Regions from separate parts of the Homo sapiens genome. Here region 1 is linked to region 2. Evidence: fine-mapped expression QTL. A gene starts in region 2. The other region holds a variant in brackets. All regions are shown on one strand. Distances are from middle to middle. Region 1 holds the start of LINC03016 (long intergenic non-protein coding RNA 3016). Region 2 holds the start of C1GALT1 (core 1 synthase, glycoprotein-N-acetylgalactosamine 3-beta-galactosyltransferase 1).

Region 1 (5,386 bases), 72 kb after region 2:
TAACATTTTTCTTTTGTGTTAGTTTTTCTTCAAAACGTACAAAAAAGTACGCATCATTGTATCTTGTGTATTTACTACCAGCTTTTACTAGATAAGTCATCTTTCCATTGAAAAAGTGATAAGCTCCATTATTTTAAAAAAAACTTAAACATTCATTGCAGATGACCATTTCAAAGATGAAAATTTTTAAAGGACCCCAAACCCCACCACCCCCCAAAGTAATTCCAATTAATGCATAAATATAAATTGGATAGGAAGCTAAATAGATAGAAATGGTTTTATTAAAGTGAGATCGTGTAACAAATGCTAATTTTAACATTATAATTTCAAAAAAATACAGTTGCTCTTGATGTGGCCAAAATCTGCAAATTGTCCTGGGGGCAGGGAGAGGGGAATGTCATCTTAGCAGCAACAAAATTGAGTGATTTCTTTGGGAGGGGGAGATGGAGAGAGGAAGAACGGACTGGACTTAGGCTTCTCTGTAGCAACATTCAGTGCTAAAGCAGAGTGAAGCAAACTCTACCAGATTCTTGGGGGAGGAAGAAGCCAAGTGATTTCAAATGGAAGGGTAAATTGAAAGAGTGAGGGTGGACACTTCTTGAAAAATCTAGATGATGAAGCCCATCTAAAGAGATAAATGGACAAACATTGAGAACAGGACTGGTGGTGGTTAATTATTTAACTATGTAGCTATAGAATTATTTAAATAAGGCTATGGAAGCATATTGAAATGTTATAAATCTTGATATAGAAAAGATGATTAACAAGTTAGAAAATAGAATATCAAAGACGAGGTAATATATACATGCCCTAATTGGTTTTACTTTTCAGAATAGAAATTTTGTAAAATTGATAATATATCAAGAAATAGGGATGTAATATTCTGAATAGTTATGAAGGTAATCACCAAAACTGTAAGCCTGATAACTATTAAAATGAAAACACAAAATTAAAGATAACACAGGCCATATAAGAGAGCTAAAGGGAGAATTTACAATAGATGACAGAATTAAGACCAAACATAGATATGATGTCAAATAAGGAAAAATATGATTTAACTTATAAATGTATGAATATACAAAAACTGTTGGCAGTACCTTTGGGGAAGGGTACTAGGATTGGAAAGAAATTCAATAATTCACTGTTTTCCTTTTTGAACTTTTAAAAAATCATGTTTATACTGTCACAGTTTAGAGAAGTAAAGTGGGAAAAAAAAGCTGTTGGCCCTGGCTCCCTAGGGTTTTTACAACCAGTGGTGAAGAATGTCCACAGACATTCTTAAGCAGCAGTAGAGGTAAGCAGGTACACACATGAGCTGGAAAGATCTCAAAGCTGATTTGGATTCTTTTATCTTGCCATAAGAAATTACTTTCTTCAATCAAGGGTATAAAGACTGCTGAACTAGTTCATAATGAGGGTAGATGAAGGAGGTATCCATCTTCAAGAGTGGTAAATAGTTGACCCATACAAAGGACCAGCAGCCTCATGTGGACCCGTCTTAGCATCCTTCTCTCCTTCTACTCCAAGGGTGAAGAGTACTCGGAAGTTACTATTTATTCTCAAATCCTTGTGTCAGATTATTTTCATATCTTTCTTAGATCTGTTCTGGCTTAAGTCTTATTCTCTTATTCATGGAAATAGAAGACACTGAGCCCTTTCCCACATAAAAATATAGGACTACTGATTTCTAGAGCTTAAAGATGTTCTAACGCCTCGTTTGAAAGATTCAGAAACAGATCTAGAGATGTTAAAGTTTAGAAAAATGACACAAATAATGCCAGAAGTGGCAACAGAACTCAATTTTCCTGACTCCCAGGTTAGTGGTCTTTGTACTAAATGCAATTTCTTATCTTCCCTGAACAACCTGAGCTATGTACTTTAACAAAATTTTTTGTGGGTACATAGTAGGTGTACGTATTTATAGGGTTCATGAGACACTTTGATACAGCCATGCAACAAGTAATAATCACATCATAGAAAATGGAGTATCCATCCCCTCAAATATTTATCCTTTGTGTTACAAACAATCCAATTATACTCTTTTAGTTATTTTTAAATACACAATTAAATTATTGACTATAGTCACCCTATTGTGCTATCAAATACTAGATCTTATTCATTCTTTCTGTTTTTCTTTGACCCATTGTACTGCTAGATAGAACTCACATATTTGGTCCCTGCCTTTTCCCACCATTTGCAAATAGATTCTAGGAACGATCCTAATAGTTGCCAGGCACTGTTATCAGAGATCAAATCTGTCTTGTTTCCAATTGTGCCTGGGACATAATAGGATTTTTTTTTTTAAATAACAAAGCCATGTGTAGTGCTGCATGCCTGTTGTCCTAGCTACCCAGAAGGCTGAAGCTCAGGAGTTCAAGTCCACCCTGGGCAACAAGACTCCATCTCCACAACAAAAAAGTTTAAAAAGGTTACTATACGATTACTATACATTGTATGTATCAAAATATTACTCTCTCCCCCATAAATATGTACATTATATATCAATTAAAAGGAAGTAAATGGTGAGCATCCTTTCACTATGAAGAAAAGTTCTCCATATGCCCCCTACTTTCTTCTGTTTCATTTTTATGGAGACCTCTAAACAAAATGCTTTTCTCATAGATATGGAGGGACTCCTAAACAGGTTTTCTGCTTGAGAAAATCTTGATTTGAACTCCACGTATCATACACCATCAGGCAAAAAACCTCGCATTTACGTTGGAGAATACAGTCCAGAAAAAGAACAAAACCTCAAGTGTGGGCAGAAGATTGTGTGTATTTGCTATTAGGGAGGAGAGCTCAGGTTCCTTTTCTCTACAGTGACCATTAGACATTCCAAAGCACTGTCACTTGGTGTAGCTCAGTGCTCTTGGTTACTGAAGCAACAAGTGATCTCTGATGACA[A/C]AACAAAGGTAGGGTCGTGCCTAACACTGGTAAGGAGAAAACTGTGTCGAGTTAGTTAATAATTAATTTACATGTCAAGTTACAAGTTTTCTATCCTAAAATCCAAAAAAAGCAACAGCTCTTTTTTTTCCTCCAGTCATTAAATCACCCATTCAACAAACTTTCACCAGGCTCATGGTTTGTCAGCTATAGAAGAGAAAGGAGGGCGAAACCTGTGGTTAAGGCTTGCCTGAAGGATCTCACATTTGGGTTGGGGGCTGACATGCCAGTGAACAAATAGCCTCCTCAGGACTATGATAGAGGTATTTACAAAGAACTATAAGAGGACTGTATATTAAGTGTTTAGGGATCTGAGAAGTTTCAAAGAAATTGTGGCATTTGAACTGGATTTAAAGAATAAGGCTCAGGTACAACTTCATGTGAAAGAGTCGATATATTCACAAATTTGCCAAAGCCCAGTTAACTTCAATTCTTCGAGAGTTCCAGTTTTTTCCCAGGTGCAGTCAGTGTACCATTTTTTTCTGAGACCCACAGCCATTTTCTTTCATTGGCATGTTTTTAGGTTTATTTTTCAATAACTCCAGTACCCCTGAAATTTCCTTCCTTAGATCTTGAATAAATATATTCAAGTTGGGCATTACTGCATGGTTTGAGGATAATGTCTTTCCTGTTAAAAATATTTTTAAGTTTTTATACAAAGGTAATGTATGTGCTTGGTAAAAGAGAATGAATATAAAATGAAAAGCTATAATCTGCTACAGCCCCACCCAGCAGTCCCTTTGTCCAGCCATAAACAGAAAATAACAGAACTGTACTCATTTCCAAACTAAACACATCATTCTGCTCCTTGCCTTTTCTGCTTACTGTTTAATAACTTAGAGATAATTCTTTTTAATAGTTAACTAGATCTCTGTATGGATGTGCCACAATTTTTAAGCCATTCCTCTATTGATAATTGAGTTGGATACTTTTATTATAATTATTGCTGCACTGAACATCCTTGAAATGATTGTGTGGGTACAGCCATAGGATAAGTTCCTAGCAAGTAATTGCTGAGATAAAGAATGTATGCATTTAAATATTCATAGATACTGCCAAATTGCCTTCTTAAACTGTACTGTACTACCTTATACTACTACTCAACATTTGCGAGTATATTTTCCTGCCCCTTTTACCAAAGTTTTTGATTATTGAACTTACTAGTTTTATCACTGCATTAATATCTGATAATTGTTGATTTGTACTTAAGGTTTGAGTTTTTTTTATACATTGGTAATTTGCATTTCATCTTCGCCAGTTTTTAATATTGAATTACTAGGGTTTTTAAAAATTTTTATAAACTCTCTGAATATTGGTTTATTTATATGTATTAGAACTGTTATGATTATTTCGTACTTGTTTTTTCCCCACACAAACCAATTAATCTTTTCTTAGGGCTATTGAATTGTGTGTCTTGCTCACACCAAGGTTTATTTATAATATGCTTATGTTTTCCTCTTACTTTCATAGTTTCATTTTTTGTGTTTATATTTTTGATCCCTCCAGAATTTATTTTCTTATATGGAGTGAGGTAGGAAAATGGCTACCCGTTTGTTGTAATACACTTTATTTGACGATCCTTTCTTTCAACATTTATTTTAAATCACCATTACCCCATGATATTTCATTATCGGTTTGTGTATAAACTGTATTCTGGTCTGCTTATCTGCCTATTTCTTGTGCAGTACATTGTTTTAATGATTTCAGATTCATAACACTTAATAACTGACAGAATGAATTACCTACTTAAACATTTCGTACAGACACTGTGGTGGATTCTGCTACATATCATGGCATTATGCCATGAATGCTTTCCAGCATTACTGGCAGAAATAGCCACCCTTAAAATATGCCCCTCGTGATCCTCAGCGGTTCCCAGGGTACAGTGTAATGTGTACCCAGAAATGGGTTGCCCTCTTGCCCATTCCTGGGCTGCCTCCTAGGGACAGTGACTCCAGTTAACTTGCTGCTTCAGTGGGCACTACCATCTTCTGCTGGTGACTTCTGTCATCTTGTTTGACCCTGGGGAAAAGACTTATTTTCCTCTTTGTTGCCCACAGTAGAGACCAGACTTTCCTGACCGTTCCAGAATAATGAAAGAAAGGGTCCAGATAGTACTTTATGAGAGCGGCCAAGCTCCAGTGGAATCCTCTCCACCCTTACCAGGCTACTGCTCTGCCCTCTTTGCTACCTGTTTCCAGGTCACCAAAGGTAGTTCAGCTACCCCACTAGAAACCTTCAGTTATCAGCACTTCTTTAGAATTGGAGCCAAATTGACATCTGCACTAAAAGAAATGAGGAAGGTTTCCACTCACCTAACACTCTGGACACCCTCCTCCCAAAATTCCTGCTGAACCAACCTCTCCCCTGGGAAACTGGCAGTGAAAACATTTAGTCTTTTCAGAGGAAATTACACCTTTACTCAGAGAAACGTGGTCTGGAT
Region 2 (5,386 bases):
GTGAAATATGGCTGTTCTACCTCCAGTATCATGTCCCTGTTTCAGGTTCAAAAAAAAAAAAAAAAAAGGGATGGGTGCATATCAAATGGCTAAAGCGATATTTCTTCCATAAAGCTTTCCTTGAGTCTCCTCTACAGAAATTCACTTTTATTTAATTGATGGTCACATGGCCAGCCATGACTTATGAAAGTCTAGGGGCATGAATATTTTTAACTGGCCACATTGTCACCCTGAAGAAATCAGAGTTCTACTAGTAAAGAAGAAAGGATTTTGGTTTAGACAACTAGTAATGTCTACCGACCTACTCCAACGAGTTTTGACATGCATTATTAAACACTAGACACAAGAGAAACAACAATACTGAGGTTTATGTGTGTTTCAAGTATGTTTCAAATGGGAGAATCTGGTCAGTTTTGAGTCCCACATATAAAGTATATTTTTCAAAGTAACCACAATTTTTATTCTCTAATTGAAAATGTCGAAGAATTGGCTGACATTAATGTCACTTCTAGGAATGTGTTCAAGGAGATAATTGCACAATTGTGCAAAAGCCTATGGATAAGAATGTTCATCAGAGACTTTTTTTATGGTAGTAAAAACTTGGAAACATAAATGTCAATCAATAGAATACTGGTTGGATAAATGATGGTATATCCATTTAACAGACAGTATGCAACTTTTAAAAATGATGTTATTCATGACTGTTGTTCACTGTGCAGATAATACGATCCAATTTATGAAATATTGTATTTATATGTCTATATGTGCTTTTATTCTTAGAGAGATGCCTAGAAGAATGTAACACAAAATTTAAGAAATGGTTATCTCTATATTATGGTATTTGGACAGATTTTAACTTCTTTGCATTTTTGTTTAAATTTTTTAAATTTGTTTGCATAAGCATGTATTGTTTTTATAAAACAATAGTTATTAGCTGGGTGCCACAGCCTGTGCCTGTAATCCCAACTACTGGGGAGGCTAAGGCGGGAAGATTGCTTCAGCCTTCAGCCCAGTTATTCGAGGCTGTTGTGTGCCAAGATCACACCTGTGAATAGCCACTGCATTCCAGCCTGGGCAACATAGAAAGACCATATCTCTTCAAAAAAAAAAAAAAGCTATTTTCAAAGAAAGGCAGGGTGGGGGCAGGGCTGATTTGGTCCAGTATTGTTTCTAGCAAGTAATTTTCCAGGATAAGGCTGTGGCTGACCTTATTTTAGGAAAGGGTTCTAATCTTTGCTCAATGGAAAAAAGTGTTATTCTTTATTAATTATAACTTTTAATAAAATTAAAACGAGATAAGGAGTTGTGAGTTTTGGTTTCTATTTGGAACACTGACCCCTGAAAGAGTTCTCCTTCCATGTTTCACAATGGATGGCAAGACATTGCGGAAAGGTGGAAGGATGTTGCGGAAAGGTGGAAGGATATTGCGGAAAGGTGGAAGGATATTGCGGAAAGGTGGAGGGGGAGGAGGCTGAGCAACAACTGTATACAAGTTGGGGAGGAGTAGAGAATGGACGTAATCATGTAAGGCAGAGAAGTCTGGACCCATGAGCCAAGGAAAGAGCAATAACCTGGACATCAGGATAGCTGCACTTCTCTTCTAACATGGACCTATCAGTTTATCTTTCTGGCCTTAGTTTTGTCATCTGAAAAATGAGACATCTGTATTAGAATCACTACATGTGCTTTATGTTTCACAATTCTTTTGGATATATTGATGCAATGTCCTGAGAAACTACACTACAGCTGAACCTAAGCAAATTAAAGGAAAAATAACAATAACTAATGTATATTATTATTTGTCTCAGGCATTCTAAGTAACTTGCCAATAGGTGGAGGGACCAAGATGCCAGCCCGGGCAGTCTGATTTCAGAGCCCATACTCTTTAACAACCATGCTGTAGAGTACTAAAGAACCGCTTGGATAGGGCATTTAAAGGAAGCAGGGTAGCTTTCCTATTCTGGAACGTGGTCTTGTAGATAATGGTTAACGCCAGTAAAGACTAAACCTTACCCTCACCTCATGACTATTGTGGGGTTGCCTCAACAGGTGGCAGCCTCCTCCCCCTATTCCAAAGACAACTTCCTTATTCAGAGCCCAGCGAAAGGGGAGATAGGTTTTGTTACGCCCCTAAGAAGCTCTTCCGGCCATTGCCCCACAGAACCGAAGTGCTGACAGAACCAAAGACGAAATGTGCCTATAGAAAGCTTTCTGGTATCATTATCTCGGTTCTCAGCTCTTCCTGGTTCTCACATGATGACCCAGCACCCGTATGCATACTTCATCTTATTACTTCCTTTTATTAAGCCCAGAGAGATACTGAGTAAAGAGAGCACGGGGAGAGAACAGAAAAACAAATGAACGGGTTAAGAGCAGGCTACAGGCCACAAGAGTCCTGCAGGGTTAGAGCCTGTACCTCAGACAAAGGTCCTTCAAGCATCCCCTTTCTCGCTCCCTATTGTTACCCTGCTTTCGTCCCGCTCAAGGTCTTGAAGCTAGTGCATAACCTTACAGCAGGATCAGAAATGCGGAGAGTAGCAGACACAAGCCGCAAGGGGGATACAACAAAATCTACTGCTCGTGCAAGATCCGACTTCCCAGACCCCTTCGCATTAGGGCGGAGCGTGCACCCGGCAGCCAATCCCCGCTTCCTCACGTCGCCGTATCCCCGCCCACCGCCCCTCCCGCTCCGCCCTTCCCTGGGGCTGGTGCGGCGGCGGAGACGTCAGCGCCAGGAGACTTCGGGTGGCGGCTGCGCCATAGGCGGGCCACGGCCTGGACGCGCTGCGGGGAGGGGCGGAGCGAGCGGGCGGGAGCGCGCGCTGGGCCCGCCTTGGCCGCCGCCGCTGTGCTGCCGCTGCCGGGGAATAATCTGGGCGGCAGCGGGCGGCCTCGGCTAGCGGCCACGAGCCACTTCTGCGGCTGCCCAGAGAAGCAAAGGTCACCAGTCCCAAGTCGTCCCCCTCTCCGCCCCCCAGGAGGGGCGAGAGGGAGCCGCAGCTGATGTCAGGTATGGCCGGCGGAGGCGCCCTCAGGCTACGGGTCCAAGGTCTCGTCTCCCCTCGCCCTCCCCCCTCTCCGGGTTGGTGGGGAAGCGTGGAGGATGGAACCAAACCCCGGGCGCGGCGGAACAGGTGTCTCGGGGTCAAAGCCGGGCTGGGGTCGTCCGGGCTCCTGAGGAAGGCGCGAGGACTTCCCGCTCCCGGAGCCTTAGCGATCTGCCACAGCGTTCGGCTGCGTACCCGGCCTCAATTTTGTGGACATGTACCCTCCTCTTCGTCGTGGGTCCTTCCCTTGTGCCCGCTCGCGCCCCTCTTCTGCTCGCGCGCTGCCTGGCGGCGCGGCGGGGCGCGCAGTGCGCCCGGACCGGACCACTTAGCGGTCCTGCCCCGCCGGGCCCTCCCAGTCCCTCCTCCCGGGCCCTCCCCGCCCCGCCGCAGACCTGTGGGTCCCGCCGGACTGGGCGCCCAGGTGTTGGGCACCTTCGCCGGGGAGCCACTCGGCTGCCGCGCCGCCTGAGCGCCCAGCGAGCGGGCTCCTTCCAGAGGTGCCTGGAGCTTGCTTGGGTCTAGCTTGGATCATCAGGTTTGTCTGTAGCTGATTTATTTCTTTAAGTTTCCCTGCCGCAGAGTGAAGCAGATACGTGTGTGTTGGGGCATTCGGGGCATGGAGGAGGAAGAAAGGCATTAAATTTTTTTTTTTTGCTTCTGCACCCCATTTTTCCCCAACAAATTGTGATGGAATTAGTAGGTGTTGACAAGTTGTCCATTTGCTTTGAATTTGGGTAAGTCGTACACTCTTAAAAGATGACCATAATTTAGCGCTGTGGATTTATTCTTTCCTGGTCCTTACCGTCTCCCCACCCCCCACCACCCCGCATTTAAAGCAAACAACAGTATCAGCAACAAAAAACCCACACATCCTGGAAAAATTCTCAAGATTTCTAACCTAGTTCTCTATATCCATTGTACATACTACTGTATTTCCTTTTAACGCTTTTTTAAGATAGAAAACTATTGTGCTAACCATGGATTGATTTCATTATGAATTTAAAAGTTATAAATTTAGAACCATAATGAATCAATGAATAATTGGCCGATGTGTAAGGGAGAGAAATATGTTAACTTACTAAAAGTTGGGCATAGAACATAGCTCTGCCAGGAAAAAGTGCGCATAATTTCAAGTTGCTTCATTCTGGTGTGAGTTTGGGAAGTTGGAATCCGAGTTTTTAGAAGGTATTTAGATGACAGCTTTTCACCCTCTTAGGTAAATGGCAGTTGAGCTTAATGCCCATGATGCTGTATGTTCTAAATATTGTATATAGTACACTATACTTTCTACCAGTCTTTATATATAGATGTACAGTTTAAGTGAATATAAAGTTTCAAGTTAGCAAACAGTTAACTCTTCACCTTATGGTAAGTGAAACAATGACTTAGTAAGGAAAGTATGACTCATTTAAAATTCTTCATAAAGAGAATAATTTTTCAGTATTAGTGGAGAGCTACTAAATGCCTCTCAAATTTGCCTGGAATGTGTATTTTTTTGTATCTTCCTACTTAGGATTAAGCATTTTAGAAATATTTTGTGTTTCCTATTTAAAGTTTTTCATAATTATGCTTTTTAAGACTAGACTACGTTGAGTAAATTCAATATCCAGTTATTCTTAAAATTGTATCACAAATTTATTTCAGGGTACACATAATGAGTTCTTGTTTACCTAATAGAAATATGAAAAAGTATGTCACTAGGCACATGCTACTATTTGTGTATTGATTTGTGCTAAAATTAAAATTGCATTATGCAGTTTAACATTATAAGCCATGGTAATTTAGAGTCTTTGTGTGGTAAAATCATTGATTGGAATTTTTGTGACAGTGCAGCTATAAATAAACCTTAAGTAGAAAATGGAAAGCTTGATGCTGAAATTAAATTCAGATAGGCTTAAAAGTTTAAGCTTCCCAATACAACCATCTTTTCTTTTAGAAGATTTCTTAAGATTTGATTAAAGACGCTGATGTACAAACTATAGCAAGGCTGAAAGAAAGGTATGACAAAAATCTTTTTACTTCAAATTCAGTGGGATTAAGTCATTCTTTTAAAAGAAGAAAGGTGGGGAGCGGGAAGGAGACTTGTTCCATAAAATGAGAAGTTAGCCTTTTATCTTAAAATCTGGTTAGAGAGGAACTCCAATGTGTACTTAAATTATTTTGCAGCTAATTCAAATGTCCAAGGGGAATATATATGCCAAAATCTGTAATATGTGAGAATAGGAAGAGGGAGAAAAAAAATATATAAAGAAACTGGTGTTTGTGATTTAGGGAAGCACATAAGAAGGTGGGGGAAACTGAAAGGAAAGTCTAAATAAATTATCTAGCACCTGTAG

Evidence for each region.
Region 1: its variant is fine-mapped to the expression of C1GALT1 in thyroid (GTEx, PIP 0.91).

What each region holds. Positions count from the first base shown.
Region 1 is chr7:7,252,267-7,257,652 of GRCh38, forward strand. LINC03016 (long intergenic non-protein coding RNA 3016) reads left to right here and starts at 2,888. Exons shown (of 4, transcript NR_108073.1): 1 at 2,888-2,912. The variant A/C (reference allele first, on the strand shown) is at 2,905.
Region 2 is chr7:7,179,811-7,185,196 of GRCh38, forward strand. It overlaps C1GALT1 (core 1 synthase, glycoprotein-N-acetylgalactosamine 3-beta-galactosyltransferase 1), which reads left to right and starts at 2,734. Exons shown (of 4, transcript NM_020156.5): 1 at 2,734-3,010. RefSeq lists silencers at 2,474-3,083, 3,304-3,523.